2 linked regions of the Homo sapiens genome follow. The protein of the gene in region 1 interacts with the protein of each later gene in a biochemical or structural test. Each region holds a gene or a part of one and is shown on either strand. Other genes may lie near its edges.

The links.
Region 2: the proteins of DOCK2 (region 1) and PAK2 form a complex in vitro, tested with the Homo sapiens proteins (one study listed by BioGRID).

What each region holds. Positions count from the first base shown.
Region 1 is NC_000005.10:170,081,074-170,084,152, forward strand, and holds the end of DOCK2 (dedicator of cytokinesis protein 2), read left to right. Parts: intron 1-768; coding exon 769-911; intron 912-1,722; coding exon 1,723-1,785; 3' UTR 1,786-2,309; downstream 2,310-3,079. UniProt on the Homo sapiens protein: Involved in cytoskeletal rearrangements required for lymphocyte migration in response of chemokines. Activates RAC1 and RAC2, but not CDC42, by functioning as a guanine nucleotide exchange factor (GEF), which exchanges bound GDP for free GTP.
Region 2 is NC_000003.12:196,746,085-196,750,055, forward strand, and holds part of PAK2 (serine/threonine-protein kinase PAK 2), read left to right. Parts: intron 1-3,971. UniProt on the Homo sapiens protein: Serine/threonine protein kinase that plays a role in a variety of different signaling pathways including cytoskeleton regulation, cell motility, cell cycle progression, apoptosis or proliferation.

The DNA.
Region 1 (3,079 bases):
GTAGTTCATGTTATCCACCCCATTGTATGGATGAGGAAACTGGGGCACTGAGAACATCACTCTCTTGCCTATCACCAGCCAGCAAATGGCAGAGACTGAGTTCAGACCCAGGCCCTCTTCCCTGGAACAGGCACCTACCCACTGCCCCGCCACCACCCCCAGGATAGCCTGAACACAGCTGCAACATTTGGCCCAAGCCATTTCACTGGTATCTGCTCAGCAGGTCTCACCACACCCTGGCGGTCTGGGCTCTTTCTCCCATTTGGCCAATGTCAAAACCAGCAGTCAGAGAGTAACTAATTTTTCATGTCTCTGTGACGCCAAGCTGGGGCTGTAACCACTAGGTCATCTGGCCCCTCCACCAGGTGACACGTGGGTTTGAGACTCTCTTCCCGCTGTCTCCTGCAATGGGGAGAGAAATCCAGGGTGTTGGTGTTGGGAGCTGGAGGAAGAGTAAGCTCACACTGTCCCCTGCCTTGGAGCAGAAGGTTCTGTTTCCTGGGGATGTCAGGGCTTTGGGGCAAGGTTTTGACCAGGAGCCAGGAGGCTGAACCCTTGTCTGTAGGGTGGGCAATCTTCACTGCAAGAGGACAGCTTCAATGTCCCCTGGCACGGCAGGAAATAGGCATCCTGCCTCCTGCTTGGCACATACAATGTGTGATCCCTGGATGCTGGCTCTGTCCCCCAGCCCTCCCCCTGTCTACCTCCCCCAAGGCACTGCCCCTCCTCTACCCACCCATTCACACCCCAGCTCTGCTCTCCTTCCAGCCCTGGCGCTCTCAGTGGCAGGCATCCCTGGGTTGGATGAGGCCAACACATCTCCCCGCCTCAGCCAGACCTTCCTCCAACTCTCAGATGGTGACAAGAAGACACTCACACGGAAGAAGGTCAATCAGTTCTTCAAGACAATGGTGAGGACATTGAGGGTGGAAGGAAAGGAAGGCATTGGGAGGAGAAAGGGAAGAGAGCAATGCAGAGAGAAGAAAATGGGGGGTTGTGTGTGCATATGTGGTCATTCCTAGGGAGGCATAGTCAGGAGGCCCTGAGTTCTGGGACACTGTGCAGCAATGCCCAGAGGGCAGTTCTCCTCTGGGGCCTCAGGCAGCTCCTCTGACCAGGATTGACCCCAGCTAGGGATGTGCAGGACCCAGGGACCTCAGAAGCAGTAGGTGGCCTACCCTCGCCTAAACTGCCCCTTAGTGCTCCAGCCCTTTTTTATTCAACCTATATCACAAAATCCTACAAATTGAACATTAGTTTCCAAGCGCTGATTCTGCAAGTCCCATCTCCTATTGTTACTTGTTGGCCTTTGCTCAAGATCAAGAAGGTACCATAACACATCTGATCCTCAAGGTAATATGAAATCAGGACTCTGCTACTACAAATATCTCAAGTTTACCATGAGCACACGATGAGTCAGGCACCATGCTAAGCACTTCCCAAGCATGGTGCCATTTGAGCTCCCACTCTTAGGATTTTATATGGGAGGCTCACAGGGTTTGGTAAGTGAGGTGCCCAAGTCCACATGGCTAGTGAGCCTGGGCTCACTCTACTGTCTACCACTGCCTTTCTGGCCAAAGCCAAGGGCATAGCAGCTCACATTCACTGGGCTTTGGGCAGGGGTCAGTGTTGAGGCCCTTGTGATTAGGACTGGGAAGCTCCATTTTGGTGCTTAATCTGATAATCGCATCTTGGTTTTGTGCTTGTTTATTCTCTCAAAAGCTGGCCAGCAAATCGGCTGAAGAAGGCAAACAGATCCCAGACTCGCTGTCCACGGACCTGTGAGCTGCTGCTGACTAGGGCTGCATGGGAGAGCCAGGGAGGGGAGTTTCTGGAAGAGGAAAGCCATGCGTGGAACATCGAAGCCTCAGAGAGTGGGAGACTGTCCCCATCAGTTGTCCTTACTTAGAGGAGACAGAGAGGCCAATCAGGTCCCAGAGCTTGAATGCTAACAAGCCCAGCATCCCCTGGGGCTGTGATCATGGTGGATGAGGAAGCCTCAACGTAGATTCCTGAACTCAAGGTACCAGCAAGAATGCCTTCTCCCAGTGTGCTCTCCCCAACATCCTAGGCACAGCTTTCATAACCCAGTTTCTTAGGTGTAAGAAACTGTTTTTATCTCATTTATTAAGTCTCAGAACTTAACAGAAAAGGAAGCCTTTTAAATATTCTTTTTAATTTTATTTTAGATTAACAGTTTTGTACTTTACATTTTTTTATACAACCAACCAGTTTCTTTTCTAGCCAATCATCTCTGAAGAGTTGCTGTTTCTTACTGACAATAAAAAATGTTCTCTTGGTTCGAATAAGCCTTGTTGCCTGATTCTGTTGGCTGACTCTCCTGGGCCCAGGACTGGGCAGGAAGCTCCCTGGAAGGAAGGCAGGCCCAGGGGCTGCAGTGATGTGAAGGAGCCTGGTGATGCCCTTGCCCAATGCCAAATTTCCCCACCTCATCTATGAGAAGATTCTTCAAGAATCTCCATGACTCTTGTTCCTTAGGTGCCAAACCCTGGGCTACCAGCATGTTAAAAAAGTTGCCCTGGTCTTCCTCACGAATCTGAATAGTGGAGTGTCATACCTCCTTTCTTCACCTTTAGAAAGAGATGGCAAGACCACCCAAGCCAGGTCACTCTAGTAAAGACCAAACATAATGCCAAAGAGTTAGGAAAAGAGGGGTCTGAGGTCCAGTGGACTTATGGTCCAGCTCTTGGATCTTGTCACCGGCTCCCAAGTGGTGGCTTTTCTTGGAGGAATTCTCAGGTTTTTCAGATGAGGCCCAAAGGAGGTGAGTAGCTTTGTCAGGCAGCAGCAAGAGAGGATGGGAGCAAAGTCCCACGTCTGGATCCTACAGAGAGCAGGGAGCTGTGCAGGGGAGGGGTCCAGAAGGAGGCGGAGGACTGCATTTGAGAAGGAAATTAATACTGGGTAAGTGCATGACAACACAGGTTTCAGAACTAGAGCCATCTGGAAACCTTGGGGTGGATGCTCATTTACAGGCTGGGTCCCTGGGGTATAGTAAGAGATGAGAAAGAATGATGATGGTAGCTCAAATTTATTGAGCCCTGACTGTCTCTGGGAC
Region 2 (3,971 bases), on another chromosome or scaffold:
CCAAAGTGTTGGACAGGCATGAGCCACCGTGCCCAGCCCTTAACCCTGTTTTAGGTCTTTATTACATTGGCCTGAAGTTCCAAGACTTGGTTAAACAAGAGACGTGTCGTTGTCTTGAAATGACTCTGGTATTAATATTTTTACAGTTAGGGATGATGGCAGCTGTTGGATTTAGAGAAAGATTATTATTTTATTCTGTTTCTGCTTTACAAAAAATAGGAATGGCTTCTGAATTTTATGAGATGCTATTGTAACATTTAGATGATGATATGGTTTTCTTCTTTTAACTATTGCTGAGGATATGTAATAGTAAATTTGCTATTAATCAAAGGTATCACAAGGTATATATCGTGAATAACCAAAATCCCACTCATATTAGTCCTGCGTACGGAATTTATTGAAAGGTTAGAGGAGAATCTCATATAAATTTAGATTAATAAGAATAGGCCGGGCACAGTGGCTCATGCCTGTTATCCCAGCACTTTGGGAGGCCGAGGCAGGTGGATCAGCTGAGGTTTGGAGTTTGAGACCAGCCTGACCAACATGGAGAAACCTGTGTCTACTAAAAATAGAAAATTAGCCAGGTGTGGTGGCAGGTGCCTGTAGTCCCAGCTACTCGGGAGGCTGAGGCAGGAGAATCGCTTGAACCCGGGAGGCGGAGGTTGCAGTGAGCCGAGATCGTGCCATTGCACTCCAGCCTGGGCAACAAAAGTGAAACTCTGTCTCATTAAAAAAAAAAAAAAAAAGGATAGGCCTTTATGATAACTTCTGTAGTTAACTTCTATAACCTATTCAGGAATCCTTATTCATGAGTCACTTTTGATAATTCGTATTTCCTAGATCATTTCTTTTAGATTTTCAAATCTGTTACTATATAGGTGTGTATAATCTTTTGTCATTAAGATCTGTGGTATTCATTTCCTTTTTTTTATTAGTGATTTCACTATTTTTCTGAATTTGCCAAATGTTTGTCTACTTAGTGGTTTTTTTTACTAACCAGCTTTGAGATTTACTTATTGTATTGGTTTTTTTTTGTTTGTTTTCTGAATGCCTGATTTCTACTTTTCTCTTTATTTTGCTCTCCTGCTTTTTTTTTTTGTTGTTAACAATGTTAACATTAAGTTAATGTTAATGTTATTAATTCTTAATGAATTCTTAGTTCCTTTAATGTGTTTTCGATGAGCGGTAATCGCTCCTCGGATAGACCTCATTGGCTACGATACCGCCACTGTGCAAAGCTAGTTCATTTTAATGTCTTTTAATAATAAAAACCTTTAATGTTCTTAATTTGCTTTTGAATGCAGCGTTGGCTGCACATTCTAATTTACATGGACAATGTTCTTCTGCTCAGTATTTTCCAAATAGCTGGTGGTTCTAGTTTTGATTTCCTCTTTGACTCAGGAGGTATTTAGGATAATTCTATTCACTCATATTTTCTTTCATTGTTGTCAGCTTCTATAATCTTTTAAAATATCTTTTAAACTTATTGAGTGTTTCTTGTGACTTAAAACATAATCCATTTTGGAAAATGTTCTATGAAAACTTAGAACATTTTCTGTTGGTAATATACAGAGTTTTATACATAACCTATTGATTAAATTTAATGACTAAGATTATTTGTATGAATTACCAGTTTTTATAAATAGTTCTTACTAAATATAGGACTTAGTCTTTATTAGTCCTAGTAAGAACTATAGTCGTTATTAATAATTCTTATTAATGTAAAAATCTTCCTAATCTGCCAAAGACAAAGAGGTAGCATTGTTTCTGAGAAGCTTGTTCTCACGTTGGGACCTTTAGATTTTTATTTCTTCTGCCTGAATGTCACTGAGGCCATATTTGAAAGAGATCTTTCATGATCACCTCTGCCTACCCCCACTCCGCATCTAACTTCCTGCCCTTCAGTGTGTTTATTTTCCTTTATAGCACTTCCATCTGAAGTTTCTTTTTCATTTATTTGGTTTTCTTTAATATACTATTCTGTTTTACAGAGCTTTGAACAAATAGGTATGAAATAAGTATGTGTTGGTTGAGTGTCACTCTCTTATTTCTAATGATTTTTAGAAATTTTTATTCATTTTAATTAATAGACTTTGCAGCATTTTAGGTTCACAGCAAAACTGAGCCTAAGGTACAGAGTTCCCATATACCCCATGCTCCTCATGCCCCTCTTCTCCAAGCCTCCTGCTCATCAACATCCTGCATCACTGTGGTATATTTGGCACAGTCAGTGAACCAGCATTCACACATCATCACTGCCCAAAGCCCACAGTTTACGTTAGGGTTTGCTCGTATGGTATTGTACATTCAGTGGGTTTTGACAAATGTATAACAACATGTCTCCACCAGTATCATACCGACTGGTTTCCGCACCTTAAAACTCTCTGCTCCACCTGTTCCTCCCACTTTTACTGCAACCCCTGGCAACCGCTGATCCTTTTACTACCTCCATCGCAATGCCTTTTCCAGAATGTCCCGTAGTTGGAATTATATAGCGTGTAGCCTTTTCAACTTGGCTTCTTTCACTTAGCAGTATGCATCTGAGGTTCTTCCGTGTCTTTTCATGGCTTGATAGCTCATTTCATTTTAGCACTGAATAATATTCCATTGTCTGGATGTACATTCACCTATTGAAGGACCAGGTTTGGTGATTATGAATAAAGCTGCTGTAAACATTGATGTGTGGAGTTTTTTATTGTGGTGTAAAATACATGTAACAGAACTTACCATCTTAACCATTTTGAAGTATACAGTTCAGTGGTACTAAATACATTTATAGTGTGCAATTATCACCACCATCCATCTCCGAAACTTTCCATCCTGCAAAACTGAAATTCTATACCCATTGAACCATAACTCCTCATTCTCCTTTCTGTCTGCATGATTTTGGCTACTCTTATGTACCTTATGTAAGTGGAATCATATTTTGTGTTTTTGTGACTTATTTCACTTATCCTCAAGCTTCATCTGTGTTGTAGCATGTCAGAAGTTCTTTTCTTTTTTTTTTGGGTGAATAGTATTCCCATGTGTGTATTTACCTTATTCTGCTTGTCCATTTATTCATCAGTAGACACTTGGATTGCTTCCGTAATTTAGGTACTGAGATTAATGCTACTACGAACATGGGTGTACAAATACCTCTTTGAGACCTTGTTTTCAGTTATTTCGGGTACATACCCAGAATGGAATTGCTGGGTCATATGATAATTCTGTGTTTCATTTTTTGAGGAACTACCGTATTGCTTTCCACAGCGCCTGTATCACTTCACGTTTCCACCAGCAGCGCACAGCAGTTCAGTTTCTCTACATCCTTTTTAACACAACCGTTGTTGTTTTTAATAGTAGCCATCCTAATGGGTATTAGGTGGTATCATGTTAGTTTTGATTTGCATTTCTCTAGCAGTTAGTGATGTTGAGCATTTTTTCATGTACTTATTGACCATTTGTATATCTTCTTTGAAAAAATGTCTATTCAAGTGCTCATGTGTAGGTTTTCGGGTGGACATAAGTTTTCAGCTGATTTGGGTGAATACCAAGGAGCATGATGGCTGGAGTGTATGGTAAGAATGTATTTCATTTTGTAAGAAACTGTTCAACTTTCTTCCAAAGTGGCTGTACCATTTTGCATTCCCACCAGCAATGGATGTGGGGGTTCCTGTTGCTTCACATCTTTTCCAGCATGTCATGTTATCATTGTTTTGGATTTTACCCATTCCAATAGGTAGTAGTGTTTCATTGTTTTCTGTTTTTTTTTTGAGATAGAGTCTTGCTCTGTTGCCTGGGCTGGAATGTAGTGGCACGATGAGAACTCACTGCAGCCTCGAGCTCCTAGGCTGAAGCGATCTTCTCACCTCAGCCTCCAGAGTAGCCAGGACTACAGATACGCTACCTTACCTGGCTATTTCTTTTTTTTTTTTTTGAAACAGAGTTTCGCTCTTGTCGCCCAGGCTGTGGTGCAATGGCATGATCTG